Homo sapiens: one gene and its partner. The protein of the gene in region 2 interacts with the protein of the main gene of each other region in a pairwise test. Each region holds a gene or a part of one and is shown on either strand. Other genes may lie near its edges. The genes, in order: PELI2 and NEK9.

Evidence for each region.
Region 1: the proteins of NEK9 (region 2) and PELI2 interact in a two-hybrid assay, tested with the Homo sapiens proteins (one study listed by BioGRID).

Annotation. Positions count from the first base shown.
Region 1 is NC_000014.9:56,278,848-56,294,405, reverse strand, and holds part of PELI2 (E3 ubiquitin-protein ligase pellino homolog 2), read right to left. Parts: intron 14,731-15,558; coding exon 14,629-14,730; intron 5,970-14,628; coding exon 5,772-5,969; intron 4,139-5,771; coding exon 3,950-4,138; intron 1,688-3,949; coding exon of another isoform or gene 1,640-1,687; exon of another isoform or gene 1,051-1,639; intron 1-1,050. UniProt on the Homo sapiens protein: E3 ubiquitin ligase catalyzing the covalent attachment of ubiquitin moieties onto substrate proteins. Involved in the TLR and IL-1 signaling pathways via interaction with the complex containing IRAK kinases and TRAF6.
Region 2 is NC_000014.9:75,098,474-75,114,031, forward strand, and holds part of NEK9 (serine/threonine-protein kinase Nek9), read right to left. Parts: intron 14,931-15,558; coding exon 14,866-14,930; intron 11,899-14,865; coding exon 11,848-11,898; intron 11,405-11,847; coding exon 11,212-11,404; intron 9,015-11,211; coding exon 8,870-9,014; intron 8,230-8,869; coding exon 8,029-8,229; coding exon of another isoform or gene 7,993-8,028; intron 7,524-7,992; coding exon 7,477-7,523; intron 5,525-7,476; coding exon 5,369-5,524; intron 3,293-5,368; coding exon 3,184-3,292; intron 2,681-3,183; coding exon 2,519-2,680; intron 1-2,518.

The DNA of each region.
Region 1 (15,558 bases), about 19 Mb from region 2:
ACTGGAAACCAGGACTGTCCTGCGATGAGCTGCAAGGAGCTGGAGTCCATGAGCGCACTACCTCGGACTGCCCACAGGCAGGTGCAAGAGCAACCTCTGCCTAGAATACTCCACTCCAGTACACCCTGCTCCAGCTGAGCCCTGGTTGGCAAACTCCTACTTGTCATCCAGGTCTCACCTGGATGTCACTTTGCCCTGGACATTTTCCTTGTCATGAAGAAATCAGCCCTTCCCAAGTATTAGTTTTTAGAAAAAGTTAAGGTCCCAACAAATGATAAATCTTAATACTGTACAGGACATACACTGTGACTCCTTTCAGACAGCCTGAAGTTTGCTGATGCTCCTTCCCCGCCCCACCACCATACCGAGCATCCCATGGTCTCCTCTCCTCTAACTGGTGACGTGAGGCTCCTGACCTTGCTGACCACAGGCAATTCTCAGAGGAGGCCTCATTGCAGGATAAAACTGTGTCTAAAGGATCACCCTGATGTGGTAAGAAGCTGAGGTATGGTGGTGGCCTAGCCTCTGGCTGTGGAACAACCCCCCTTTCCTCCTGCAGGGCAGTTCTTGGTAAACAACAAAGTCTTATTATAAATCTGGGGTGTATGGTTTTTTATTTTCCACATACCCTTGACTCCCACATCTGGGGTAGGTGTCCTGTGGAGGGAAAGTACCTTCGGTACCTTCTCATGACTGTGCTCATCACACAGTATCTGCTGATCTGCTGCCTAGTCTGTGACCTCCTCCAGACCATGCAATTAGAGGGCAGAGCGTGGACTTGGTGTTTTCTGCCACATCCCCAGTTTGCAACCCCTGCTTAGTAATAACAACCAGCCAGTCATGGGGCATTACTGTGTCCAGCACTGTTCCAATCCTTTCCAGCTACTGAATTTAGTTCTCACAACAGTCCTATTAGACATGTATTAATATTATTCCAGTTTGGGAGATGTGGAAGCCAGGCACAGAGAGGTTACGTCGTCAATTCAATACCACAGAACTAAGTGGTGAAACCAGGACTTGAACCTGGTGGCCTGATTTAGCAATCATTAGTAGGCATGAATTCAGATTTTATTTTTTAAATTCTACCACAAAAGAAAAGCTATGAGCAGGCACAGGAATTGACAGTATTGTGGAAGCAAGAGACATTTGGCCTCTACCATGGCAACTAATGGCCCCTACATAGCAACTATCTAAGCACAGGGTAGTGAATTCAACCCCCCATCCACCACTTCTTATTAGCAAGTGACTTAACCTTTTAAAGCCCAGGTTTCCTCATCTGTAGACGGACACAATAACAACACTGACTTCACGGGTTATTTTAAGCAACACTGGAAAGACAATTAATGTAATGCACCTGCTAGAGCCTGACCATAGCTACGCTATGGTTATTTTTATAATTTCACCTAAAATTAGGTATGCAATCAACTTAACTGAATTTACTTAATTTTATACAAAGCCAGTTTAGTTTAATAAAATACTTCATATATAATTTAATTAAATACTCAAGGCCCTCCTGGAGTAATATTATAAATGTTACCATATGTTATCATTAACTAGCTAAAAAAGGAGGGCACAATTCAAACTCCATTCACCTATTTATTCAGGGAGTTAAAGGCCTGAAAAGACATTTCCCCCATATTTAATTAATTTTGTTGATTAGTACACAGTTCTGAGGTTCCATCATTTGCTGTAATAATGAAAAACAACGGTGATTTCTTGTTACACATACATTAGTATATTGATTCATATCAAATGCTCAGTATGATATTAATACATAATCTTCCACCAGCACTAGCTCCACAATGTGACTACTATTGTTTTAACAAATATTTTAGACTTTTAGCAGCTCACTTTATTTCTCATATTTCTGTATTAGACTGCAAATGACAAGTACTGCCAGAGACTGTCTCCAAAATCTAACCTCCAGATAAACATAATTTATATCAAATGCTACCAGCAACATGTACAGGACCAATGAGTCATGAATTGAAACAGAAGTTCAAAGAGTCAGTAAGCTTTCCTCGAAGACAGACAAAAACTGTTCTCCAGAGGTTAACAAGAGGAGATTGCAGGAAGAATGTATCCGTTCAGTGTCCCATAAGCCCAAGATCAGGCTGATAGAAGCCTTTGTAACTGGCCAGGTTAATCGGATGCTATCAAATAGGACAGCACAATTTTACATAGTTCTCAGTGTCGCTTATAGGGACTAACTTCAAAAATAGCCTGTATATTTAATACAACTCATTAATACAAGCCATTTTTGGAGTTCGTTCTTTTCAGTCGCACTGTAAAATTCTCCAGCACACATAGCAGCCTGAGAAGGGTCATTACACAATAACCAGAGTGGACGAGAAACTCATCCTGTGATATGCCCTCCTGGACAAAGGCGCTCCCCACGGACTCCAGCGTATGCTTTATACTCACCCAGGGAGGCAAATGCTCAGGTGTAAACCATCCCTGGCTCCCCACAACATGGTACTGAGTAGTATTAGGTGTCCAGGCTCTCCATCAGGGAGACCTGAGTTTGAATCCCACTGGCTGCCACCTGCTAACTCTGTGACACTGGGCAATCTTTAACTTCACGCCACATCTTCCTCATCCATGAAATGGGGATGACTCTACTTCCCTAAGAGGGCTGCTGTGCAGATGAAGTGAGCTCATGTCGGAAATGTTAACGCAGAGTCTGCACCCAGCAACCATTTACTGACTTCTTACTCTTGCTGTTATAATGATGAATAACCAGTTTGGCCAATCTAGGTCAGTTTTGTATAAAACTATCCAGTGATCAGAAACAAAAGATTATTTAGAAAAACTGCTTTCACATTTCCTCCTTTGTTTACAATTTCTTGAAAACATTCATACAAAATTTATTGAATTTGCTTTTTTTTTAGAAAATGCTTCTCATATTTATTCAGCCATGGTGCACTGTAAGACGCATACGCTGTGCCTGAAGCTGAAAAATGGTGTAAAATAGAAATAAAAATAACCATTCCCTAAACACAAACATCCAGTAGAGAACAGCAAATGAGGTCAGTGAAACAGCCCCCAACTTCTTTTTCCATCTTAGACATTTTTGGTGATGATCTTTCTCTCTGACAAGTGCTAGGTCAAATCCTCTATTCTGTATACATTTTATTCTGTGGGAGTTTTGAAGAACTCCTTCTTTTCTAGCTTCTAGAAAAAGACATTTGTTCTCTCTCGTTCTAGCTTCTACCTAGCAAATTAAGAAAAGTACAGGAATGGACAGCTTACTAAAAATCAGTGGCTGTGCTACATGGCTATGGCAAGATCAGAAACCCAAAGTTCTATATTTAAGGTATTATAATTATTCTCCAAGAAAGAATGGGTTTAAAAAAACTGCTTTAGGGCATGGGGATAAGTGGTGATATTTATAGGAAAATATTAACATGCCAGGTCAATGCAGTATATAAATCATTTCAAGTAAACAGTTGTAACTATGATTTTGGTGGACAGTATAGAGAATTCTGCCTTAATATATAGGAATTCAAAGGGAAAACCAGCTGACTTATTTTTTACTTCCAGAAAGTCTAGTAAATAATTCCTTAATGCATAATTTTTACTAATTGTTTTTGGACTGCTCAAACGTTTTCCAAATCAATAAAGTTTTACACTAAAAATAAGTTTCTTCTCCTTAAAGTGAATTTAAGTAGATTTTTGTGGTGAGGTATATAATAAAAGATAATGCTCTTCAGGTGGTAAGGAGCAAAACACAATTTACTCCCACTATGGGAAAAGTTGAACCCCTGAAGGAGATAAGGCCATTTCCCTCTTGATTTCAGGGGCTTGTGGAATTCTGCTTCTCCTGAGTTACAGTACATGGCGCTTGGACCTGCACAAAGGTTCTGAACATCAGGGGAGGAAAATGATAGCCTTCGAGTTAGGCTTGAGTAGTTTCGTACTTCACACTTGCAGAGTGAAGCACACTCACCAGCTTTCCTCGTTGCTGGGCCGACCTGGTTTCTCGCAAGGTGTACACATCTCCACAGACAGAGATCTCGCGCCAGACCCCGGGCTGGGACTCCTCGGTGAAGCCCCCTCGTGGATGCATCACCAGGACGCCATTAGTAGTGAGCCCATCCATGTGGCCGTCGGGGTTTTTCCACTTTGCTGCCTTTTCCTGGAGAGAACACAGCAGAACAGAAAAAGTAGGTTAAGATGATGTTGAAATGGAAAGGATTCTGGAATTTCTTTAATACATTGCATAGAGGCAGAGGGGAGGAAGGTGATGAATTTTCATTTTCTATTTAAAGCTAATAATCACAAGGATAACATATGCCATCCTTTCGACAATATAAAAGAAGTGCTGAATGGATGAATGACTTATCACTGGACACACATCATAGTTCTCAAGAACTTGCAAAAAATCGAGGCCTGGGCTTCTCCCTCTAAGATTCTTTTTACCTTCCCCACAACCCCATGAGATTCCAGGAATCTGGTGTGTTTTCTCTTTTCAGTTATACTTATGCCATGCTCCTATCCTGTTATCTAAAAGTACTTTCTATGTTCTCACTGTCAGGATAGAGAAGAGAAAGGACAGTCATAAAGAAAGACCTTTTATTAAAGCTAGAAAATTCCAAAAATGTTAAGCCAACAAGTCGGGGTCATTATGTTTTCATAATAATCACCGTTTAAATTCTCAAAGGTAGATGGCGCATGTAGCTTGACATGACGACAGGACAGACACTCTTGGGTGCTTGTGCCACAGCTCTTCCCTTCAGCTTTCTTGGTGACAGAGCTCAGCTACTGTTCATGTGGCTGGGGCGGGGGTTGGGGGGTGGTGGGGAATCCTGATTAACCCAACATGACACTCCCAGCCCTCTTCCCAATAGCTGGTTTACAGGTGGGCACAGCACATGACTGGGCTCTGACTGATGACACATGATATCTTCTTGGAGGCTTCCAAGAAAGGTGTCTGTGCTCTAAGAAGAGACAAGGAAGAAACAGTGCTTCTGCCACCCTCTTCTCTGGCTGGAAGTTGTCATGTGGCAGGGGACATCTGGAAGTGCAGGAGCCAGCTCTCACCCACAAGAAGACCTCCCAGGAAGAGGCTGGTGCACCACGGGAGGCAGAAGGCAAGACAGAGAGAACCCAGTGCACTGGATGTCACAGAACCACTGAACCACCAACCCTGGAGCTGGCCTTCATCGGCACTTCTTATGTGGGAATAGTACATTTTCACTGATTTTAGATCATTTTGAGTGGGTTTTTTCCTGCAAAAATATCCTAATTCAAAAGGAAACTATGTTAAACCTGGATATTCACTAAAACTTCTGGGGTTTACAAGGAAACCCTATAAGGGCAGGGATTCAAGTCTGTGTTGTTCTCTGTAATCCCATAACTAAAACACCCAGTATGGAACATAGCAAACACTCATAAAACATTTTTGAATGAGTGAATCACTAACATTTTCCTCTAAGCCCTAATGATCTAAATTTGGCCCATTTATTTTTCTCTCTGAAATAAACCTCTTCGTTGCCGTAAATACATTATGGACAATGTTATAGGCATACTTTAAAAAAAGTACTTACTGTAAATATTACAATATAAAAAATATAATGAATAACAAGCAATGCTTATTAATGTTCAGATTTTTAATAACAAGTTTCTCAAACTGGCCACCTGAAAACTAAAATCTCAAAATCTCACTAGAGGCAACATACAAAGCCAATTTTTTTTTGCTCCAATTAAATGTTCCATATCATAATCACAAGCATTTTTCTAGAAATCGTGTACTTCTTGACAGTACTTACTCCAAGAAATATGTTTTTGGAAGAGTCAAATCCGGCGGCGAATATCCGTGCTGTGTAAGGTTCATTCCTGTCGCACACGATCCTGCAGGCGAACCTGGATATGGTGCTCTGTGTGATCTGGGCTTCGTCCGTGTTCTGGCTGCCAGAAATCGTGTCTGTGACAACGAAGTCGATAGGGCTTTCTGTTGATCTGCCCACCTAAGTAAATCAAATGTACTCGTGATTCACTTGGAAAATAGCAGGGTGCCGTATTTTATTCACAAGGAAAAAGCATTCAGGATTCCTTTAACATTCACTATCCTTGTTCTGAGGGTTAGAATTTAATGCAAGATTTTCATTCGTGCTCCTTTTCCTATTTAACTAGGGAAGATATTAGGGTAACCAAATATTAGAGATACCTATTTTTAATTTTATTGTATTGTGCTAAGAATATAATATGAGATGTATCCTCTGAAATATTTGAGCACATAATGCAGTCATTGTTGACTACAGGCAGAACGGTGCACAGCAACTCTCTAGAACTTACTCATCTTGCTTAACTCACTTTATGCCACTCACTAGTTCATTAGATTTTAAGTATTGAGAAAAAGCTCAATTAAGAGGACAGGAGTAGATCTTTGGCCACTCATCAGATTTTATCTCTTGGATTAATGTTCTATCCCAACAACTGTAACTCTGATTCTGAAGTTGCCAATGGGAGGAATGCAGAGGCCTGTGATGTATGCACATAAAGTTCCCAAAAGTCAATTTCCAAGGCATTTTTATTCTGGTCTCAAAGTTCTATCTACAAACTAGGCAATGTAATACATTTTTCATCCAAATGAAGAAAGTAGAAAAAAAATCTTGTATCACTTAGCTCAGCTTGCTTCCTGGAACAATATTACATTTCTTTTGTAAATCTCATATATACGTTCTCATGCACAGACTATCTCTCTAAAACCAGCAGACCACAGACATCTATTTTCTTTTGTTTTTTTATCACCCTTAATTTCTTGCCCTAATGAAATGTGCCTGGAATGAACTAAACTGCTGGTTTCATTGAAACTTAACAATTTGAACAGATGCATATTGCCTAGATATATGCATTTCAGGTTTTGAAAACACATAACTTGTTAAAAAATGCAATGTAAAATCTAAATTAGATGTATTATAAAATCATATAATTCATCCTTCTAAAGCTGCAAAATCTCCTCTCTGCTAGATTCATTTAAAAACTGGGTAACTTGGAAACTCTACTGATTCAGACTGCTTTAATTTTGTTAAACATTTTTTAACAAGAAAATTAGAAAAGTAATGAAGACTTATTGCAAAATATTTAACAAATGGAGAAAAGTATAAAGGCGAAAACAAAGCCAACTTCAAACTTAGGCGTAAACCTGTCCTGAGCCTCTATTCCAGTGAAGTTTAGGAGTAAAATGTGATAAATTCTAGAATTTCCCAGTCATCTCACCAAACCTGGAGCCTCATAGCGACAGTCACTGTCACAAGATTTGTCCATCTCCATGGAAGAGGGCAATGACTTTTCAAGCTCTAAGTTCAAAGCCAAAACCACTCTGCTGGTTTGAATGTTTCATAACTGTTCCTTCTTGTGTACAGAAATTACTCTTTTCTAGAAGGGCCACATTCTGAGTTCATCCAAATGTATTAAATTAATGTCTTGATGAAGTAATTGAAATTGACTGTAAAAAGAGGAAATTTTATTCTAACTGGAACAGCCTGCTAGGATCAATGATTTTAAGTCATGACACTTATCTTGATCGGTCATACACATGACTTATCAGTTTGCTTCCACTTAAATCTAACCTCTAGAGTGCTGGTAAAATTTTATACTTTATGACACAAGCCTCATGTTGCTTTTTCCAGGAAAACAAAACAACAACAACAACAAAAAAAACAACAAAAAAACAAAACTAAGTCACTTTCCTGCTGAAAAATCACTCAATGTGGAAAACTTGCAGCCTGCCCTTTCTTTTGACTACTGGATCAACTCTACATTATTTTAAAGGCAGTCATGCACACAAGCCAAGATGCTTTTGAATTTCATCTGATATTCATATAGCACGCAAGCCAGGGTGCTTCTGAATTTCATGTGATAGTCACAGAATGCCGGTAGTCATATAACTAGCTACAGTGATAACTTTGCTCCATTCAGCATGTTAAATTTTATATATATAAGAAAAGTTTGGGTTTGCCTGGATGTCAGCTGAAGCCAGGACAGGTAAGATGGTATCAAAGCATCTAGAAGGGCCTCACCTTTTTCTCACCTCCCTCAACCAATTCCTCCCATCTCCCTGCATCAATCACTTTATTTTCTGACTTCCCTCCTGGGATAAGGATGAAATATTGTTGCTCCCATCTAAAAGCAATCTTTCCATTGACACTTGGTATTCCAATGTTCTCCCTTTCCCAAGGATTTTGCTCCTAATATTATCTCCTCTCTTTCTTGAGTCACCAATTTCTCCTTTTATACTGGATCATGCCATCAGCTTTCACACACGTTCTGGAGCTTCTCAAACTCTGTGGTTAAAGGACCAGTATAGTTGCTGTTGTTGTTTTAAATTTTAACCCATCACTGATGCCTTTTAAACATACAATAAAAATGAGTACTTGAGAAATGATCATCTGCTTGGATGTTTCCGCAATGCCAAACTGTCATAAAAGTTTCCTCTCAATTTGTATGCTTATCTCATTCTGTATTTTAACAAACATTTCACTGCTGGGCAGAGGGAGTGCAGTTTGAGTAGCCCTGCTCTGGCGTAGTCTCCCACCTTTAAAAACGCTTTCCTTCACCTGCAAGCAAGCCCCAGGCTCCAGCCCTGTTTCTCTGATTCACTTAACAGCAAGACTTCTTGGAAAACCTGTTATCTCCTCCACTTCCTCACCCATATCTTTAGCTTCCTTCTTCCTCAACCCACTCCAATTGAGCTTCCTTCCCCACAACTCTACTGAAACCACGCATGCTAAGATTCCAAAAATCAATATATTGCTAAATCCAGGGCTTATGCTGAGCCAGCATATGCCGGTCCATCTCTACCTGGTACTAAAATAATGAAACTTTCAGGCCAGTTGGTAAATAGTCCCCCCTTCCCTTTTCTTTCTGTTCTCTCCCTAAATAGTATCACCAAATCCCACCTAACAGCTCAAAGTCTTCATCTCTCCCCTGAGCTTCAGACCGGCACACCCAATCTCCACTTGTATGTTTGATAAATATCTCAAATGTAATATATGCCAAACAGAACTTGGATCCCCCTTCACCCTGGGGCTTCCCTATATCAATGACTGACTGACATCCAATTTGCTCAAGCTAAAAGTCAAAACCCAAGAATAACCTGATTCTTCAGTTTCCTCCATGCCCACATTAGCCCTGTGTAAACACTGTCAGCTGTACCTCCAAACACATCCTCAATCCTTCTACTTTTCCCATTTTGGTTCTGGTTACCATTATGTCTTACTTGGGTTCTATCACCTTAGCCTCCAAACTGGTCTCCCTGTTTTCATACTTGCCACCTAGATTCTTTTCCATACAGTAGTTTGAGAAATCGTACAAAAACATAAATCAGATTATACCTCTCTCCTGCTTAAAATCCTCCAACAGCTTCCCAAAATTCCTAGAATAAATCTCAGACTCAACCTGGCCTGAAGGTCCTACCTGTCTCAGCCTCTACCTGCCCTTCCAAGTCCATCTGAGTTCACTGCTGTCCTTCTCCACTGTGATCTTGACTTGGAGCCTTTGCGCTCACTGTTTCCTCTGCCCAGAGGGTTTGTTTATTTGTGGTCTGCCTTCTCCAGATGTAGCCTCCTTGAGAGGAGAGCCTTAGTTATCTCTCCCCAGTCATCAAAGGAGTTTCTGACACAGCAGATGGTCAAGAGATGAAACTAGTAATTGGAAGATTATGACAGGGAGGCTGAATCCTATGAGATACAAACATACCTGCACATGCATGCTCATGTACAATGGTTGTAGAAATACCCACTAGAAAATGTAGATATTCTTTAATATTTTCCTCTTAACTTAATAGATACTAATTAAATGTTATCATCTAAAACTACAGTAAATCAACTAAATTGAAAACCAAACCAAACCAAACCAAACAAAAAACCAAAACCCAAAACTGTTAGGCCTTGTAGCACCGCGTTCGAAGCCTGTGAAACTGTGAAATCTGAGAGAAAGGGCCCCTGAACACCGGCTGCAGGGCCCAGTCAGTCTCCTGGCCCCTAAGGTCAGAAGGCACTTGGCACCACACGTTACTCTAGGGACACTGTAAAGACAATGCACCCCTCTAATTCCTTCCATTAACTATTTTCTCTTTTATGTTTCACTTTCTTGTTAGACTTTTCTTTCTTTCCTTGTTTATGCCTACTCCAGAAAATAATGACCAAGATCTTACTCTGATTATATTAACTAACAATTTCTTATACCTTAAATTCAGATCTAGCTTTGATTTTTCTCCTCAGGCAATAATATTTCTGAGTTCTGAGTCTACTAACTGACTCCAACAGTGGGAAATGCAGCATAAAGCCCTTTCTTGGTTCTTTCTGATATTCTGCCTTTAAATACTCAATTAACCCTAGAAATCATTTTAATGGGAATGACTAAAACGAACAAACTCTCCACACTGAGGTCCATACTTCAGAACTATGAGTGCTGTCGCGCTTTTTGCTCAGTGATTTTTGTCAGTAGTAGGCTTTGGAAATATAAACTTGTTAAAAGGAGGAAAAAATGGAAACAAGCCTGTCTTTTCAAGGTCTTATGAGAGTTGCTTAGTTCTCTGCTTAAAATGATCTGCCACAGATCCTTCTAACAGGTCCAGTGAGTCTGTGAATGTAATGTGTTATATTTCCTTAAGAAACATGTGAATTCTTGCTTGGCTTACCATACTTTATTTAAAGAGGCTGAGCTGGTACTATTCAGAGAATGAAGAGCTCAGTGACCTAAATCTTAGCTCTGCCCCTAATGCCTCTTCTCTTCTGGCCTTAGTTTACATTACTTTTCCTTTCAAACACCCATATTTCTCAGCTATGAAATTAAGAGGTTGGTACAAATCAGTATTCTCAGCATGTGGTTGATGAACCCCAGAGGGTCCCTGAGACCCTGCCATGGGGTCTAGGTACATGAGGCCAAAATTACCTTCATAATAATACAAAGACGTTAACTGCCTTTTCCACTGTGCTGGTCTCTATGCTGATGGTGCTAGAACAATGGTGGGTAAAGCTGCTGGTGCTTTGGCATGATTCAAAGCAGTGGCACCAAACTGTATTAGCAGTCATTGTATTTTTCATTGCTGTGAATTTGCAGTTAAAAATTATGAACTTTATTAAATCTTGAGTCTTTCGATATTCTGTATGACAAAATAGGAAGTATGCATAAAGTACTCAGAAGTTAGTAACGGGAAGCTGAAAAAGTCCAACTAAATCTTTTAATTCATTCTGCAGAGATGAGAGGGAAGAAAGTGAGCATGTGAGTCGAATGTGACTGTTCAACAGTGCGGAATACACTATGTGACACGTACGTCGCTAAAGAATATCTATGAAACTCTGAAAAATTCCGAAGAAACAAGATTCTTCTTAAAGGAATTTAATGTCTCACACTTTGAGAGTACCTGACTTACCTATAACAGGTACCATCACAGTAGTTTTTGAATTTAAGTGGTAAAAAAGTATCACTGACAATTGTGAAATAGGCTTTATTCACTTTTTTAGTATTAAGAATTCTCTCTGTAAAAAAAATCTTTAAAATCTTCACTGCTACTGTAAGTAGTAAAAAAACTTATAAATTGAAAATAATTTTAATGAGTATTAAAAAGATATAATAATAAAGTTCCATAAAAATATCAACAGGGGAGAATATACATATACTTATGTAGGAAGATATTTTCCTTAACAGAATAAGAAGACATTTATAAGATTATATAATGGAATGGCATGGAGAGTAAAACCACATTTAGTATTTTGCCCAAACATGATAAATCTTATTTTTGAGTTCAAACTGGCACTTTAATAACTATTTTTATAAATATGACTATATATTTTATCTAAGATTATTTAGTTTTTAAATATCTAACACATACGCATAGTTCCAAAAATCGAAAAGTGTAAAATATCTCCCTGTATACCACCTGCTCAGTCCCTTTCCCCACAAAGGCAACTGCTACATTCATGTCTTGTTAATCATTTTGGAGATTTTTTAATGCATATAAGCATGATTTAAACCATTTTACCATATTAAATTAACATTTAATAATGTAATATTTCATATTATTTAATAACATTTTATTTAGTAGCATTTTAAATTAATGGAATATATATTACCAATATGACTCCATATACTCAATAATATTAATATTTAACTCATTTAATATGTTTGGAGCTCTTTCTGTGGCTATATATACAGCTTTTCTTTGTTCTGTTTTATACCCTTGGAGGGCTCCACTGTATAGCTGTACCCAAATTTACTGAACTGGTCCACTACTGAAGAACATTTAGGTTGTTTCCAATCTTTTCCTATTAAGCAATGCTTTGAGCAATAACTCTGTACAAATGGCGTTGCGCATGTAGGTAAGGATATCTCTGGGGTAAGTCTCTAGAAAGAAGAGCTTTACAAAGAAAAGAGCTGAGTCAAACTATGTAAACATTTTGTATTTTTCATAGCTATTTTCAAATTGCTACCCCATAAATGCTATACCAATTTATAGAATGTAGGATAATGTCTGTTTTCCCCATATCTTTGACAAAACCTTTTGGATTTCTGCCAATCTGACAAGTGAAAAGTGGTATCTCTATGTGGTTTTAATTCACATTTTTCTTTTTGTAAATGAGGTTGAGCATATTTTCTTATTTTTAAGAGTTACTTAGTTTCCTTTTTTGGTGAACTGTCTGTCAAATCCTCTGCTCATTTGTCTATCTGATTGTAGGTATTTTAAAAAGAGATTTCCAAGAGTACCTTATATATTTGTGACATTAACCTTTTGTGATACAAATTGTAAATATTTCCCCAATTTGTAATTTGCCTTTGGCTCTTCTTATCAGTCTGAGGTGCTGAAGTTCAGGACTACTGCAAATACATTTAAAAACCACATAAAATATTCTTTCTTTCTCAATCAAAAGTACTGAATTAGGTGATCCAGATTAGGCCTGTACTTTACAATGTTACAGAAAATGGAAAAAGAGCTGGTGCATTTCTTTCTAGTCCCATCTCTCTTCCATACCTATGTTTATGTGTGTGCATATAAAAATAAAGCATGAAGTGGACATATGCCTTTTTTCACTTATTTTATTGCGCTTCCCATTTAATAATCATGTAATGGCTGCATGGTATTTTGCATTTAAATGCACCATACTGTAATCATTCTTACCTACTCCTGGAAGTATAGGTTTATTTTTAGTTTTTTACTAGTATATACAACACTACAATGAACAACTTTTTGGTTAAATCTTTGTTCATATTCCTTAATTATTTACGTATAAAAATGACTGAAGTTAGAATTACTGGGTCAATTGGTCTGAGCGCTGAAATTCATGGTAGTACTGCAATGTTGCCCTATAGAAATGTTGCACCAATTCACAGTCCCACCAGGGGGACCAATTCCATACAATGTTTTACAGTGCTGTATTATTTAATATTTTCCAATTAATAGGTAATAAAGAGTATTTTATTATTAATTCATTTGGTATTTTAAAAACTATTTTATATATTTATTGGCCATTTATATTTCTTCTTCTGAGAATTATATGTTTTGTTCTTTGTCCATTTTTGAAAGCATGGGAAAAGTGATTACTGTACAGTAGGTATCAATCCTTTGTCTACTTGATTTGTTGCCCTAATTGTCTCTAGTTCGACTTCTAATTTTTGTGACATTTAAAAAAGAAGTGAAAATGCGTAGGGTAAAATCTATTTCTTCATTTACTATTGATCCTTCCCTATTCCAAGAATATGAATTCTCCTAAGTTTTTTTCTAGAACTTTTTGTTCCTTCAGTTTTATATTTAAATGTTTATTCTCTAGAATTTACTTTAGCAGAGTATGATGTTAGTATCTATCATACTCTTTTGATGTTTGTTTCGACATCATTTATGTAATAATTTAACTCTCCATATGGAAATGCAAAGCCTCATCAATTCCAACTTATGCTTGCTTTTTTCTGTTATTAGTCTAAATTTTAATTGTTTGTTGTTTTAAAGTACTAAATCTGGAATATATTCATTAATTCTCTTTTTTTTAAATTCATTAACTGACGAATGTTTTTTTCCTTCCTTCTGCTCTTTTGATGTGCTTCTAGACTTTATATTATATACCACTAAAACTATGCCCAAACCCATCCTGTACTTTCTTAATTGCTGTACTTTGTCAAAAAAGAACTTTTGAGATAAATGTTTAGTCCCTTGATCTTCTTTCTTTCTCTCTCTTTCCCTCCTCTTAATAATGAAAGCACGTAAGGCATTTTCTTCCGAGTAAGATGTTGGCCTCGTCTTGTCAGTTGTGCTACATGATATTCCCACAGTTATTTCTGAAAAGACCTATAAATGTAGTTTGGATGTCCCTTTCATTCAAATGCTACTTAGAAAGTATTCTGAAAATGTTGGCTTTTAAAAGTGGTTAGCTTTTAAAATTTTTATTCTTGCTTAATTAATGTCTATTTTTATTGCACTGAGGTCTGAGAATGTAGCCTTTATAATTTCCCTTTACAATTAAAGAATTAAGTTTTTTTCTTATTCTTTCAACAACCAAACAGGAATAATTTTTATATTATCTTCAACTCTTTCCCCCTGGACATACTGGGCTGGAAGATCTGATTACATATAAAAAATAGAGAATTAAAGGAAAACGTGCTAAAATTTCTATTAAAAAAGAAAAATATTACCTGAAACATATCCGTATCCTTATCATGTGTGTACTCCACCACCACAGTCTGATTCCTTGACAAAGTGTAGGATATACTGTGTTGACCTTTGCAGCTGATAGCCTAATAATAAAATTTTAAAAAAATCCATTACAATTCCATTTCAACAACTTATCAATTCTGCCTGTAGTTATGAGCCACCACTCTACTGGCAAAGCCCAGCACAAGCCAGCATTTTCCACACAGTCAGGTTTTTCCCCTATGCTCTATTCCGTCAATCACAGACAAGCCAAGAGTCACAATTCTGGTTTTATCAAATATTCTGTCTTAAAGTGAACAATATTTTATTAAATCAAATCAAAGTTTATTTACTAGTTTGCAAGACTCGATTCAATCACATTCTTAGAAAAACACACACTTTCTCCATATTACCTAAACTCAGAAATAGAATTTTTAGACTAATAGAGTCATTTATTTCAAGTTTTAAGATTTCACACAACAGATAAGTCACATATTATTATTTTTCCTAGGTGATAGAGATTATCAGCATCATAAAAGAATCACTGGAAAATCTGTCAATGTTCTAATTAAGATTTCAATATCATAATACACCGTCCTAGCCAATGATAACCATATTTGTATTCTGTTCTACATCTCACTTAAATCTTGTATAAGCAACTAGTTAAGTCAGATATTTACTTTATTAATAAATAAGGTAACTAGCAATTTTATTTTTTTCAAATTTTAGGCCAGAAAAAGCTAATATTCTTTTTCAAATAGCCTAGGAATAATATGATATCATTCTTATTTTGTCCATAGTGATATGTTTGAACAAAAAGTTGTGGTCACATACTTTTAATGTTTCTAAATTAACAAATAAATCGATATAAAGTGGACTCCAAATTATTTCAATTGTGTTCTATTCATTCTACTTCAATCTAACTTATCTTC
Region 2 (15,558 bases):
AAGCCTGGTGATATAAAGCAGTCAATGTATAGGGGGAATTTAAGGGAACAAGCTCACTTTGGAGAGACAAGTGAGCCTTGGGGTACTCCAGGACTTAGAAGACTAGGCTGCTGCTATTATAGCACCTAACACCTGCCTGTGCTAGTCCCCTATTCTACTAGAGTGTGAGCTCCTTGAAAGCAGGAGTTTTCTGAGACTCATTTCTATATTCCTAGAGCCTAAAAGAGGACTTGGACATGAATGAGGCCATCAAGTACAGTTCAGAGGAGTATAGGAACATCAAGAGGTAATATGCCCAGCCACAGAATCCAAATTTACATTCCTCATTCTGAAGTTAAAGTCATGAACTACACAGATCTATTCAAGAAACATGAGCTCTCTGAAGCCCTGTCAGAAAGTGCTACTGCAGTTGCTGCACTAAATTTATCTTCAGTGACATCCTGACTGTCCTGTGTAACGTTTCCATTTATCCAAGTCTGACCTAAACAGTTTGCTCCTTAAAGTCCCTTATTTTGGGACAAGCAGAGAGAGTTAATGTGCTGTTCTGAATGCTGGTTTATTTAAATATGGTAACAGATCACAATATCCCTGAGACCCCTCATGAGTACAGAACAGGCATGGACCAAAAGAAAACAAGGATATCTCAGAGCACAAGCAACAACAAAAAAGTTGATGAGTCAAAAGATAAGAAGATTAAATGTATTGGCTGGGCATGGTGGCACACGCCTGTAATTCCAGCTACTTGGGAGGCTGAGGCAGGAGAAGCACTTGAACCCGGGAGGTGGAGGCTGCACTGAGCCGAGATCATACCACTGTACTCCAGCCTGGGTGACAGAGCGAGACTCTGTCTCAAAAAGAAAAAGAGAGAAAATGAAATGTGAGTTGTTACCAGTCAAGTGAAAAAAGTGGCTACAAAAATTTAGAAGTTCAGATGATGACACAGGAAAAAGAAAAAAGAGGAAAAAAGCAAGCAAAGAAGGAAGGGAATGTAGGATAGCAACAGCAGCAGTACAGAAGAGAAGGAGTGACCAGGAGTGGTGGCTCACGCCTATAATCCCAGCACTTTCGGAGGCCAAGGCGGGTGGATCATCTGAGGTCAGGAGTTCAAGACCAGTCTGGCTAACAGGGCAAAACCCCATCTCTACTAAAAATACAAAAATTAGCTGGGCATGGTGGCGAGTGCCTGTAATCCCAGCTACTCAGGAGGCTAAGGCAGGAGAATCGCTTGAACCTGGGAGGCGGTAGTTGCAGTGAGCTGAGATCGCGCCACTGCACTCCAGCCTGGGCGACAACAGTGAGATTGTGTCTCAAAAAAAAAAAAAAAAGAAGAGGAGTGAGGAACCAGACAATACTGCGGAAAGAAATAGCCACAGAGGACCAGGTGCAGTGGCTCACACCTGTAATCCCAGCACTCTGGCAGGCCGAGGTGGGCAGATCACGAGGTCAGGAGTTCGAGACCAGCCTGGCTAACATGGTGAAACCCTGTCTGTACTAAAAATACAAAAATTAGCTGGACGTGGTGGTTTGTGCCTGTAGTTCCAGCTACTCAGGAGGCTGAGGCACAAGAATCACTTGAACCCGGGAGGTGGAGGTTGCAGTGAGCCAAGATCGCGCCATTGTACTCTAGGCTGGGCAATAGAGCAAGACTCCATCTCAAAAAAAAAAAAAAAAAAAAAAAAAAAAAAAAAAAAGGCCAGGCACAATGGCTCACGCCTGTAATCTCAGCACTTTGGGAGGCCGAGGCAAGCGGATCACCTGAGGTTGGGAGTTCGAGACCAGCTGACCAACATAAAGAAACCCCGTCTCTACTAAAAATACAGAAATTAGCCGAGTATGGTGGCGCATGCCTGTAATCCCAGCTACTCGGGAGGCTGAGGCAGGAGAATCGCTTGAACCTGGGAGGCAGAGGCTGTGATGAGCCGAGATTGCGCCATTGCACTCCAGCCTGGGCAACAAGAGCGAAACTCTGTTTCAAAAAACAAAACAAACAAACAAAAAAATCGTCTCAGAGAAAAGAGAGGAGAAAAATCAATTAGACCAACTCAGAAATCTGAGAGATACATAATATAGCGGAAAGCAGCCCTTCAAACCTTAGCAGTCCCTATGGACATCACTGCAGTACAGGTGACCCCAGCCAACAGAGAAAATATGCTGTTCTCTCCAGCTACCCAATCAATGTTTACTGAAATCAATCAACAAGATACTGGGCAAGTTATATAGAAGTACTTAATAATTCTTATAACATTTTACCAAAAAAGTGAAAGCTGAAATGAAAAAAGGAGGAATGTAGAACATTAACCTATCATTATCTAGAAATCTGGCCTTTAAAAACAATCACTATGTTGAACACATGAAAAGTTAATAAAGCTCAATATATATAACCGGCCACCAATTTAATACAAATAAAAAAGTACATCCACAATTCAGCTATACAAATAACTAGTCCATTTCTTTCCCAGCCAAGAACTGAAACACAGCCATGTGTCCAGAAAGCTTGAAATGATATGTACAGACTCACCATCAGTGGCAGCAATGGTAAACTCATCACCGCAGGAGACCCTGATCACTTGCTTCCCACCAAGGGGTCCCCCCAACAGGTTGATTCCCAGACGCTTCTTGTAGTTCCCAACGCCCAGCTGCCCACACTTGTTGCAGCCAAAGGTCAGCAGCCGGCCTCGCTCTGAGAGAGAAGCAAAAAGAAATAACAAGGCACAAATGAGTCCTGGAACCCAGAGAAGATGCAGCCAAGCAGACTTCATGGATTAGCTTCCGGTTGTTAGAATATACAAATATAAAACTAGCCACATGATCCTGGACCTAGGACAAATACAGTATCTAGGCACTATAACCAATTAGATCCAGTCAGCGACTCGATATTGTATTCTCTCTCCAGTACTGTATTTGTAGTGAGAAAAATGAGTACTACCTTAGAATACTTATAAAAGGTGCTAATCAGAGACAACAGATGTCTGGAATCATAGGTGTGGTGTTCTCATAAAAGGATGTATTTATTATGCATTTATAATAATTATCAATAAAAATATGTACCTGAATACATTAATGAAATAATACTAGATTTTCAGGGGAAATCGGGATGATATACATATAAAGAAAACCTAATACCTGATAGAATAAAAGAGGCTCAGCTACTAAGGCATGTGATACAGTTGTAAATCAACTTACCATCAATAGCAGCTGTGTGAGTCTTGCCTGGGGCAATGGTACGGATCTTATAAAAGGACAACTGTTTGGCCAAGGTAAAGGACGTTGTGTAGGGAACTTCATGGTATGCCTGAAACAAAATAAAACACAAAGCAGATGCATGAGGTAAGAAAATCGAAGGAAAATCAGGCTGAGAATGGAAAAAAGTCCTGGTGACCAAAAGGCCTTTCAAGTAAGTTATATTACTAAGAAGAGGGTGCCAGGTAGTTTTCCATCTCCAACAGAAAACAAGAGGAAATAAGCTGAATATGTAATCAGAGAATGCAGCACATGAGGCAGAACTTTCTGACAACCAAAGTTTTAGATTCTGACTTAGGGTTTATAAAACATGAACTTTCCATCCCAGAAGGTATTTATATAAGGAGAGAATCGTTGACATTTACCTTGGTTATACACTCTGCATATCTAACAAGGGCAGGGCAAAGAATTAAAGTCCTGAGGACTGTCTCCAGCCCATAAAGGAATCAGCTTACTGTGATCTAATTTCATCTATAGGGTAGTGTTTCTCAACTTAATTAAAACTCATGTTCCCTTTGAATTAGTATTAAAAAAGAATCCTCTCATTTAAGTTTAAAATTTCACAACAAATCCACTGCTATAATGAAAACATAAATCAAGTAATAGTAATTCTGAATATTGTTTTTTTTGTTTTTTTATTTTGTTTTGTTTTGAGACGGAGTCTTGCTTTGTCGCCCAGGCTGGAGTGCAGTGGCGCGGTCTCGGCTCACTGCAAGCCCCGCCTCCCAGGTTCACGCCATTCTCCTGCCTCAGCCTCCCAAGTAGCTGGGACTACCGGTGCCCGCCACCACACCTGGCTGTTTTTTTTTTTGGTATTTTTAGTGGAGACAGGGTTTCACCGTGTTAGCCAGGATGGTCTTGATCTCATGACCTCGTGATCCGCCCGCCTCAGCCTCCCAAAGTTCCGGGATTACAGGCGTGAGCCACCGTGCCCGGCAACTGAATATTTCTTTTCAAACTACAAAGACACTCTCTCCAGCCTTGCCCTGAATTTGTACTCTCCTAATTGAAAATCACTACTTTAGAGATTGCTTAAAAATTAATTCTTACCTTTTTCATTGAGTCAGAAAACTTCTGTCTCTTAATTTTATTCTTTGGAAAATGACAAAACTCATTATATTAACACAAAAAGGAAACTAAGACGCAGCCATAAAAAAGGATGAGTTCATGTCCTTTGTAGGGATATGGATGAATCTGGAAACCATCATTCTCAGTAAACTATTGCAAGGACAAAAAATCAAACACCGCATGTTCTCACTCATAGGTGGGAATTGAACAATGAGAACACCTGGACACAGGAAGGGGAACATCACACACCGGGGCCTGTCATAGGGTGGGGGAAGGGGGGAGGGATAGCATTAGGCGATATACCTAATGTAAATGACGAGTTAATGGGTACAGCACACCAACATGGCGTATGTATACATATGTAACAAACCTGCACGTTGTGCACATGTACCCTAGAACTTAAAAGTATAATAAAAAAAAAAAAAAGGAAACTAAGACAATATCAGTGGTGAATTTGCTAACATTTTTGAAGACAGAATGGTAATTACATTCGATAAGCCTAAACAGGATCAGTGATTTGGGAGAAATCTAAAAAACTCCAATCAATCAAAAAAACTCCAGGAAGGTGATGCATGGAAATATGTTTTTTTTTATAACATTAATTTGCTTGTTCCTATTTCAATAAGGTAAAAGCTGAATTTCATCATTTTATTCTTTGTAATCAATTTATTTGTTGAAGTATAACACACTGCAAAATATCACACAGCTTGACACATTTTTCTATATACATATACTGGTAAAACCATTACAGATCAAGATATAGACCATTCCCATTACTCTAGGATCCCTTCCACCTCTTCTGTTAATACCCCTCCTTCAATAAGTAGCCACAGTTTTGATTTCTGCCAGTATAAGTTAATTTTGCCTGTTCTTAAATTTTACACAGATAGAGCTATATAGCATGTACTCTTTGTGGCTGGCTTCTTTTTCTGCACACAATGCCTATGAGACCATAACTAAAGTCAAATTCCATGGTCACTAACCAATAATGGCATCTCAAAGAAATTCCAACCTAGAGAAATTCTGATGATGTGGTTAGAACACCAATCAGGACACTCACTTCATGGTTGATAATTCCCGACATGCACTGATTCAGACCCAGCTTATTGAATTCATTGAGTCCACAGGCCAGCACTTTGCCTGACTGGGTCAACAGAAATGTCCCATCACAGCCACATTGAACTGCAACAATAATCAAGGCCTTGGGAACATCCACCTGCAAGAAAAAAATCAGAAAAAGAAATCCCAAATATATAATTCGTATTAGAAAAAAAGCTCTCAAATTCTTTCAAAAGAGACATGCTGCATTTAGCAGAATGACTACAGGAAAGTGAGGACTGCTCTATTCTTTTCAGGTTTGCCCAGTGTCTTAGAGACTACTTTTTCTTTTTTTTTTTTTTTGAGATAGAGTTTCCCTCTTTTGCCCAGGCTGGAGTGAAGTCGTGCGATCTTAGCTCACCGCAATCTCTGCCTCCCAGGTTCAAGCGACTTCTCCTGTCTCAGCCTCCCAAATAGCTGGGATGACAGGTGCATGCCACCACGCCCAGCTAATTTTTGTATTTTTATTAGAGATGAGGTTTTGCCACGTAGGCCAGGCTGGTCTCGAACTCCTGACCTCAGGTGATCTACCCACCTTGGCCTCCCAAAGTGCTGGGATTACAGGTGTGAGCCATCACGCCTGGCTGAGACTACTATTTTCTTTTCTTCTTTTTTTTTTTGAGGTGGAGTCTTGCTCTGTCGCCCAGGCTGGAATGCAGTGGTATGATCTCAGCACACTGCAACCTCTGCCTCCCAGGTTCAAAGCGATTCTCCTGCCTCAGCCTCTTGAGTAGCTGGGATTAAAGGCGTGTGCCACCATGCCCAGTTAATTTTTGTGTTTTTAGTAGAGACAGGGTTTCACCATGTTGGCCAGGCTGGTCTCGAACTCCTGACCTCAAGTGATTTGCCCGCCTCGGCCTCCCAAAGTGCTGGGATTACAGGCGTGAGCCATTGTGCTCGGTCAAGGCTACTGTTGTCAACGAAGAGCTCAAGTTTTACAATATCAAAGAAAAGGTGACAGTTCCAGGTCAACTAAACAAGACAGCACCCTCTCAGTTTGTCTTAGTAATAGGTCCTACTTAGGGTGACCTGTCAAAAAGTTGAGAAAGAAGCTTCAATTCATTGCTGATTTTGTCCTTTGAGATGGAAGGCTGCTTGACAGTTACAGAAATTCAGTAGCCCTGTGGGGTCCCAATCTGGTCATTTTATAGGAGAGGTGACAGAGTACTGAGGTAATATCTAGGACTTCCAAATGCTCATATCTTTTTACAGCTAACTAGACAGGACTGGAGAAGGTGGGGTGATGCATGTGTGGGGTCACAATGGATGTGTGTAAAACCTGAAACCTCAACCCTCAGTTTCTGCCACAGCCTTTCCAGGAGAAAAGGAACAGCTGGGAATCCCATTGAGGATGGTCCCTAGAAATGCATAATAATTTAATTTTTAAAATATAAATAAAAACTGGTTTGGCTAAAAGTTCCCAAGGAAAGAAAAAAAAAAAAGAAAACAGAAAACCCAAAACACTGCTAACAATAAATGGTATAGCTGATTTAGCCAACCCTCCAATGGGTAAGCCTGTGCCCTAGGGTAGGTGGGAGAGATGTGACTGTGCTTTTCCCCCAGCTGGTATCAGCCTCTGTGAGCCTCTCACAGGGCCAGCTCTGGCAAGGCTGAGAGTAATTAGATAATATGTTTCATGCAACATGACCGCTAAACAAAAACAACTATTAATATTTCATCTGGTGGTCAACTGTAGAAACAGGAGAGGAAAATGGCTGTGTTGGGTTAAGAGACAGTATACTGCTTTACAGTATCTTCTCGAGTTTTCCAGGGTATTTGTAGCTATATGTGACTTTTCTGCTGTACACGCTGATTTTAGCTGTCATCCCTGAGTAAGATGTGACTTCACAATGTCCACAGTCGCTGTATCCACTTTCTCAATTTTCTGTGATTTGGTCAGATGACAAGACCACAGGGTGCTAAATCAGGAATCCTAAATTGTCAGTCTCCCAAACAGGAAACACTTCGGAAATAAATACCTTGATACAACAGAGCCAAGGAAAGAGGACATATTATTGGAGTCTGTGCGACTTAAGATAGGTTTTAGAAATAAGTTGCTTCTGATTTTACCTTTTGTGGTGTATAATAATCCTCTTCTGAATCCAAACCCAGTCGTCCTGAAACACACATAAGAATGAAAATCATTATAATGAGGGCTTCCTTCCCAGTGAATAGGTTCTGTAAGATTCTCTTTTGCCAGGTGCGGTGGCTCACACCTGTAATCCCAGCACTTTGGGAGGCCGAGGCAGGTGGATCATGAGGTCAGAAGTTCGAGCGAGACAAGCCTGGCCAGTGTGGTGAAACCCCATCTCTACTAAAAATACAAAAAATTAGCTGGGTGTGATGGTGTGTGCCTGTAATCCCAGCTACTCGGGAGGCTGAGGCAGGAGAATCACTCGAACTCGGGAGGTGGTGGTTGCAATGAGCCCAGATCATGCCATTGCACTCCAGCCTGGGTGACAGAGAGAGACTCTGTCTCGAGAAAAAAAAAAAAAAAAAAAAAAAAGATTTACTGAATTAACACTTCTCATTTAGGGGCTGCATGATGGGTTTAGATGCATACAACTTTGAAGTCAGGTTGTATACCTGTGAAGAAGTGGACAGAGACAAGGCTACCCCTACCATATTCGCCACAGCCCCAAGAATAGACTTCCTTGTTTCGTGTCAGAACCACCACATGATTATCTCCACAGGAGACCTGCTCCACTGGATTGCTGAGGAAGAAGTTCAGCTGCATGGGTTCTAGCACTTCAGGGCCAGCAACTTTGTCCACCCCCATGCAGCCATAATAATCTGATCCGAAGGCATAGAGCTGACCCTCATCTGCAAAAGAAAGGAAAACAGAATCCATCAAAGGACTGACTTATTTTATCTAATCAGAAAGTTGGGCAGGGCTGGAATGAGGACTACCCCAGCAAATGATCTCACATGAATTGATTATATCCAAGAAATTAAAAGGACAGACTGTGCAAGTCTAGAGTTCTATGTCAGAGAGTCATGTGTACTACTACTACTATATTAAACAATTTAAAAAGTGGTAGCATTATCACATTAAAAGGACTTAAAATTTTAATGGGGCCATCTTTGTTATATAGATAAAAAAATAAGTCCCAAGGAATCATTAACTAAGTAATGACAAGACCAAAACTAAACTTAGGTCTTGATCCTAATTTTGTGTTATTCATAGCCTGATGAGGTGGTAAGATTATTTTTCCTGCCAACCACGACACACATTTTCTCCTGATCCCACCTCTTCTCTGTTACCCACCTGTCTTCTCCTTGCTCACCACCCCCTAATACTATAGCAAATTTGGTATGTTATTATTAATGAGTATATTTGCTCAAGGTCCTCTGGTTCTTTGTATACTGTCTTTTGTTTTAAAATCCCAACTAAGATTGCACAGCATTAAGCAAAATACCCCCACATTAAATGCACTTAAGACACTTTCTGCTGATGGCTTACCAGTCACACAGACAGTGAAATCATCACCACATGACACCTGACGGATAGCTTTGCCTTGCAACTTTTCCACATGCTTTGGCTGTCGATAGGAGGCTTTGTCTCCATGGCCCAGCTGACCATGGAGTTTAGTGCCTCCTTGCATGTTCTGTGAAATAAAGAGGTCTTATGACTTTTTTTTTTAATTACATTTTATTAAACTTAAATTTTAAAGAGATGGGTTCTCGCTATGTTGCCCAAGCTGGTCTTGAACTCCTGGGCTCAAGTGATCCTCCTGCCTCGGCTTCCCAAAGTGCTGGGATTGTAGACATGAACCACCATCCCCGGCTGAGAGGTCTTATGAAGTTTTAATTTTTCATGCCAAAAGCTGATCTTTAATGGAACTTCATATGAAGAAAAACAGTAGAAAAAAAGAGCTAGAAATTTAGAAATTAGAAAAAAATGGGCAAAGGGATTAAACATTTTAATAGCAAGTAGTATACAGATCCTGCCAACAGGTAAAGAAAACTTAAAAAGTATCCAGATTAATATCCATTAATCTAATCTTTGTCCTTCAAGTCTAAGGTAAACTATATATTTAATTACAGGTGATGGTGAAAAAAATTCTTTATAATATAGTCTAACTTTGTTGCTTTCTACAGGAATATAGCTTCTTGAAAATCTGTACTAGAAGTTTCATAAATTTTGGTCACAGTTTCCCTGAAACATGGAAGAGTTATAAAGAATCTGGCTACATCAAAGAGGCTGCTATACAGCAATGAGACTAGTCCTTGATGACTTTTCAACTTTTTTTTTTTTTTTTGAGACAGAGTTTCGCTCTTGTCACCCAGGCTGGAGCGCAGTGGCTCGATCTCAGCTCACTGCAAGCTCTGCCTCCTGGGTTCAAGCGATTCTCCTGCCTCAGCCTCCCAAGTAGCAGGGATTACAGGTGCCCGCCACCACGCCTGGCTAATTTTTTGTATGTTTAGTAAAGATGGGGTTTTGCCATGTTGGCCAGGCTGGTCTCGAACTCCTGACCTCAGGTGATCCACTCGCCTCGGCCTCCCAAAGTTTTGAGATTACAGGTGTAAGCCACCATGTCTGGCCTTTTCAACAGTTTTATAGAGAAAAATAATTCTATTAAATGAGTATACTACAAGTCCTCATATTTTATATATATATGTGTGTGCGTGTGCGTGTGTGTGTGTGTGTGTGTGTGTGTGTGTGACAGTATATATATATATTTTTTTTTTTGAGACAAGGTCTTGCTCTGTCACTCAGGCTGCAGTGCAGTGGTGCAATCTTGGTTCATTGCAATCTCCACCTCCCAGGCTCAAGTGATTCTCATGCCTCAGCCTCCTGAGTAGCTGGAATCACAGGCATGCGCCACCACTCTCAGCTAACTTTTGTATTTTTAGTAGAGATGGGGTTTTGTCATGTTTGCCAGGCTGGTCTCAAACTCCTGGCCTCAAACAATCCACTCGCCTTGGCCTCCCGAAGTGCTGAGACTTCAGTTGTGAGCCACTACGCCCAGCCAATAAATGTTTAAGATACTAATTTCTCTCCAGCAGCCTGAAATGAGCCTGAGAACGCATAGCAAGAGACAGGAGGAAAGCCAAGAGAACATGCTATCACAGAAGGCAAGTAAAGACAAAGCTTCAAGAAGGAGGGAGTGGTCAACTATGTCAAATGCTGCCGAGAGGTCAAGCTAGGTAAGGACTAAAAAGCATCTGTTTTATTTTAGCAATTTATGGGTCATTTTGTCAAGACTAGTTTCAATTGAGTGGCAGTGGCAGAGATGGAAGCTGCATTGTAGGTGAATGAAGAGAGAGTGGGAGATAAGGAAACAGACAGCAAACACAGACAATTTGTTAAGGAAGGTGAGAGGGGAGAATCTAGAGGGCAACAAACAAATTCTACACAAAATATACCTAGCCATCTTCAATCACTGCTGTGGGCTTCAGGGGTTTCCTGACATGGTATAGTCCTTCCTTTGTTTACAAAGCTATTTCACAGGTAATAGTTGCTCTGAACCTCATGGTAATATAACAGAGTAATTGAGTGACTTGTCTGAAATCATCCAGCTGTAAATGGGAAACCCCAGTCTCCTGAGTCTTTCAATTTTTCTCTCCCTCTCTCATTCATTCATTCAAAAAACATTTATAGGTGACCTAATATGTACCAGCCCTGGGCATACATCAGTGAACTAAACAGACAAAATCCCTGCTCTTATAAGAGCTTCCATTCCATCACCCCATGTTGCCACTCCCTTAGTATAGGTTCAACTAATAAAATGCTTAGACATCGTGGGCCCAGTAAACAATTAGGCTTACAGCACTGTTCCAAAATGCTTAGCGTTCACTTACCACCCAAGTGTACAGTTCCTTCTCCACTGTGACCACAGCAAAGTGGGTATTCCCTGCACAGACCTGCCGGGCACTACAGCCACTCTTGATAACATCCAGTTTCTGGGGGGTGGATTTTCCACCACCCCAAACATAGACTTCACTGGTTCGTGATGTTACTACAGCAATGGGTGCTTCAGTCACAGTGCTTGACCTGCCAACAACCCCCAGAACAAAGGAACATTTAACATTAAAAACAATATCAAAGAAAAATGCTTCCAGTCTGTTCCCTGAGAAGAACTGCCAATTATGGTATGAGAAAGTATGTTCTTTCTCGACAACTTGTTTCAATGTGCTCTATCACAGCAGACTTTGCAATTCCTGCCTCAGGGCTTCATCACAGCTTGGCCAGATCAGATTCCAGTCTGACCCATAACACCTACACTTTTCCACATTCATCATGGTAATGATGGCCACTTTAGTGTGAGGGTGAAATTATAGCTTTCTTCTTAGAAATGACTGTCTGACATTTAAGCAGATGCTGGCTCCTGAAAGGATGCCAAAGTATCCTCGGATCAAATAATGCCTACACTCAAGAAAGAACCCCCTGGTTGTAATTTCGGATATATTAGTTTTTAAGAGTCTCTTGAACATTACCTTGGTCTCTTTGTAGGTGCATTAAGCAGAGTGACTTTTTCCTCCATCTCTCTACCAAAAGAAAAGCAAAGATACATGAGTGAAATAATAGGTTTTTATATTGCAAAGGTGTCTGTTTAATACATTTCACAGATTTAATCCTCTTATAAACTGTATGCATCCTACAACATCACAATACTTTTAGCAAAGTACCTCAATACAACTCAAAACAGTTATATAGTCCTTTCATTAGACAATTCATTAAATACCCAAAGGCCAGCAGTTTGGGGCCATTTGCTTTCTGTCTCTGAGAAATGGTCCAGGCTGGAACAGAGAGCCTTGAGAACCTCTGATGTACATATTTAGTATCTGATGGACACCTTCATCTAGTCTGCCCACTGACTCCCAAACTCAGTATCTCCAAATATGAGCTTGTTAGCTTTTTCCCAAATGAGCTTTTCTTTCTGACTCCTCTATTTCTGTAACTAGCCGCAACACCCTTCCCCAATTCTCCCAGTCAACTGGGCTTAAAACCTCAGTCATCTCTGATTCATCTCTCTCCCTTTCTTTAATATTCAGGTTCTACAGATTCTACCTATATAGTACTTTTTGTACTCACCTCTTCCTTTCCAGTCTCACCACCTTAGTTCTGGGTAGCTCTACTTCCCACCTGTACTGTGATAATACCTCCTAATCAGCCTCACTTACTACAGTCTTAATCATTTTACTATACTAATTTAACACAGATACTAATATTGCCAAATAACTCTTCCTTAGGTATGCCTCTCATCACGTGAACTGCCCTCTCGCAAACATCCACCATCTCTCAACAGTGGATGTGATACCCACTCTATCTTTTGCACTACCTCTTGAATTAACCACAATTTTCTTGGCCTGGCATGCAAGATTTCCTACCTATTTTTCCAGACTTCCTTCCTTTTGTTTGCACCCCACGTTCTAGCCCAGGGCTGTCATCCTACCTAAATCAATTATAGCTGAGCTCCTAGAGTAGTGCTCAGGCATCAGTACTTTTTGAAAGCTCCTGATATTTTGCATCAAAAATCCCAGGTCTAGAACCACTAATCTAGCCAAATAGAATTTTGTGTTTCCTGAATATTTTCCACAACTTCCTGTGTCTATGATTTTGTTTATGCTATATTCTCTGTCTGGAAAACTCTGTCTTATGTTTTCCATCAAAGTACAAAGTTCCAACAAAGTATTGCAGGCAAATCTATAATTATCTCAGTAAAAATTTCATGCCTACACTCAAGAAATAAGAGATTAAAATAGTGACTTAAAATAGTGATTATGCCGTGTGTGGTGGCTCATGCCTGTAATCCCAGTACTTTGGGAGGCCGATGCAGGCAGATCACCTGAGGTCAGGAGTTCGAGACTAGCCTGGCCAACGTAGTAAAACCTTGTCTCTACTAAAAATACAAAAACTAGCCAGGCGTGGTGGCGCCTGCCTGTAGTCCCAGCTACCCGAGAGGCTAAGGCAGGAGAACTGCTTAAACCTGGCAGGTGGAGGTTACAGTGAGCTGAGACTACGCCACTGCACTCCAGCCTGGGCAACAGAGTGAGACTCTCATAAAGTAAATAAAAGTAAATAAAATAAAATAAAATAAATCATTATATTGCTGTGAAATAAGCCAGACAAAAATTTTAAATATGCTTCACCAGACCAAAAGGGTGATACTGCCTGCACGTGCACAAAACATAAATGGAAGGTCATGGTGCTGTATCTGGAGTACTGTACATAATTTCAGGCACTAAAACACTGGCTACAGACCAACTAGAGAAGAACCAGAAAAGATTAATTAAATGGCATAGTAGAATAAAAGTACTGATGAAACAGCAAATATGCAATTAGGGATGTACAGAATGTATCCAAGAGCAAGACTTGAAAAGAGCATTGTATGTGAATATTTGGAAGATATAAAAACAAAAAACTGGTAGTGGAGGAAGAAGCGTAGCAAGGCAAAAATAGTGTAATAGGATGAAATACAGACTCAAATATTTAACGAAGATAAATGTTTTAAATTAAGGTATGAAACCTCCTAGAGGAACAGAGGGATAAAGGATGTTCTTCCTATCTCTAAAGATATCTGACAGAATAATCTCAGGAAATAACCTCTGAGGAGTCAATAAAACTCGACTTCAAATATGGGCAAAATGTACCTGAAGAGGATTCCTCCAACTCCAACCTACCACCTAAACAAATGCAGTGAAAAACAAAGGCTCAGGCTGGGCATAGTGTCTCATGCCTGTAATCCCAACACTTTGGGAGGCTGAGGCAGGAGGATTGCTTAGGCAACAGCTTTGAGATCAGCCTGGGCAACACAGTGAGACCCCGTCTCTATAAAAATAGAAAAATTAGCCAGGCATGATGGTGCACACCTGTAGTCCTAGCTACCTGGGAGGCTGAGGTGTGAGAATCACTTGCAGCAGAAGTTCAAGGCTGCAGTGAGCTAGGACTGTGCCACTGCACTCTAGCCTGGGTGACAGAGTGAGACTCTGTCTCAGAAAACAAACAAAAAACAAAAAAACCAAAGGACCAGTCCAACTCACACTACAATTGATAGGCACCCTATGCCAGGCCCTGGGCTGACCACTTTTTATGCGTTATCTTCTTTAATCCTGACCTCATCTTACTTTATAGAGGAGAAAGCCAAGAAATAACGATGTTAAATAACTTGACAAAGATAATGACAAAATTCAGATACAAACATAAGGATGTCTGAGTCCAGACACCCCTCTTCCTTACTGCACTCTAATGCCTCAACTCTAAGGTTTAAAACCAATGGGTTGGGGAGTGAAGGGCTCTTGGGCCTCATTAGTACAAATTTACAACAAAACAGCACAGGCTAAGGAGGCAAAAGTCAGATGCCACCCCTAAGCAATAAAAGCAGGGATGTTGGTAGAAAATAGCACTATTGCAACCAAGTCAGGAAACACTACTCTTTCTTTTAGTACTCTGATCAAGCCTCTAAAAGTCAACTATCTCAGAAAAGACAATGGAGTGACTTCTTCATAATTTACCTCCTGCGTTTCCTGAGAAGAGGGCGATCTAGAAGTTCATCTGCAGTAGGTCTCTGCTCAGGATCCTAAAAAGTAAAAATAGGGTTAGTTTTCACTTAATGGAAATGGGCGACATCGGATCTAAAGATGTTAATTAGTCAAAGACCACTGCATTATCCTTTTGTTTTAAAAATCATTTCTTATGTGATACTCCATATTTTATGCTTCTCACCTCATTATAATCAACACTTGTACATGAAGGAGAATGTTTATAATGCATCTTCCTCACTTGTTCAGTTAGGGCAGTGGCTCTTGAACCTCAATATATACAGAACAGAAGAATTACCTGAGGTGTTTGTTACAAATAAAGATTTCTGGGCTTTATCCACAGAGATTCTGATTGAGTTCGTCTGGGGTGGGGCCCAGGAATCTTCTTTTTACTTACAAAACTCCCCCATTCCCTGGTGATTCTGACTCCAGTGTTTCATGAAACATACTTTGAATAATACTAGAACTACACAGCAAGGGAACCATGAGATATGAGAAATACAGACATTCTGTATTAGAAGTGGTAAATTATCTTTCATTGCAGTTTTTTGAAATCTATATTCAGAAATTACTCTTGGTCATAAAAAATCGAGCACAATTTAGATGGGAAATTCATTTCACAAACTAACACTTACAAAACAGAATGAAGTAAGAATTTGTTCACTG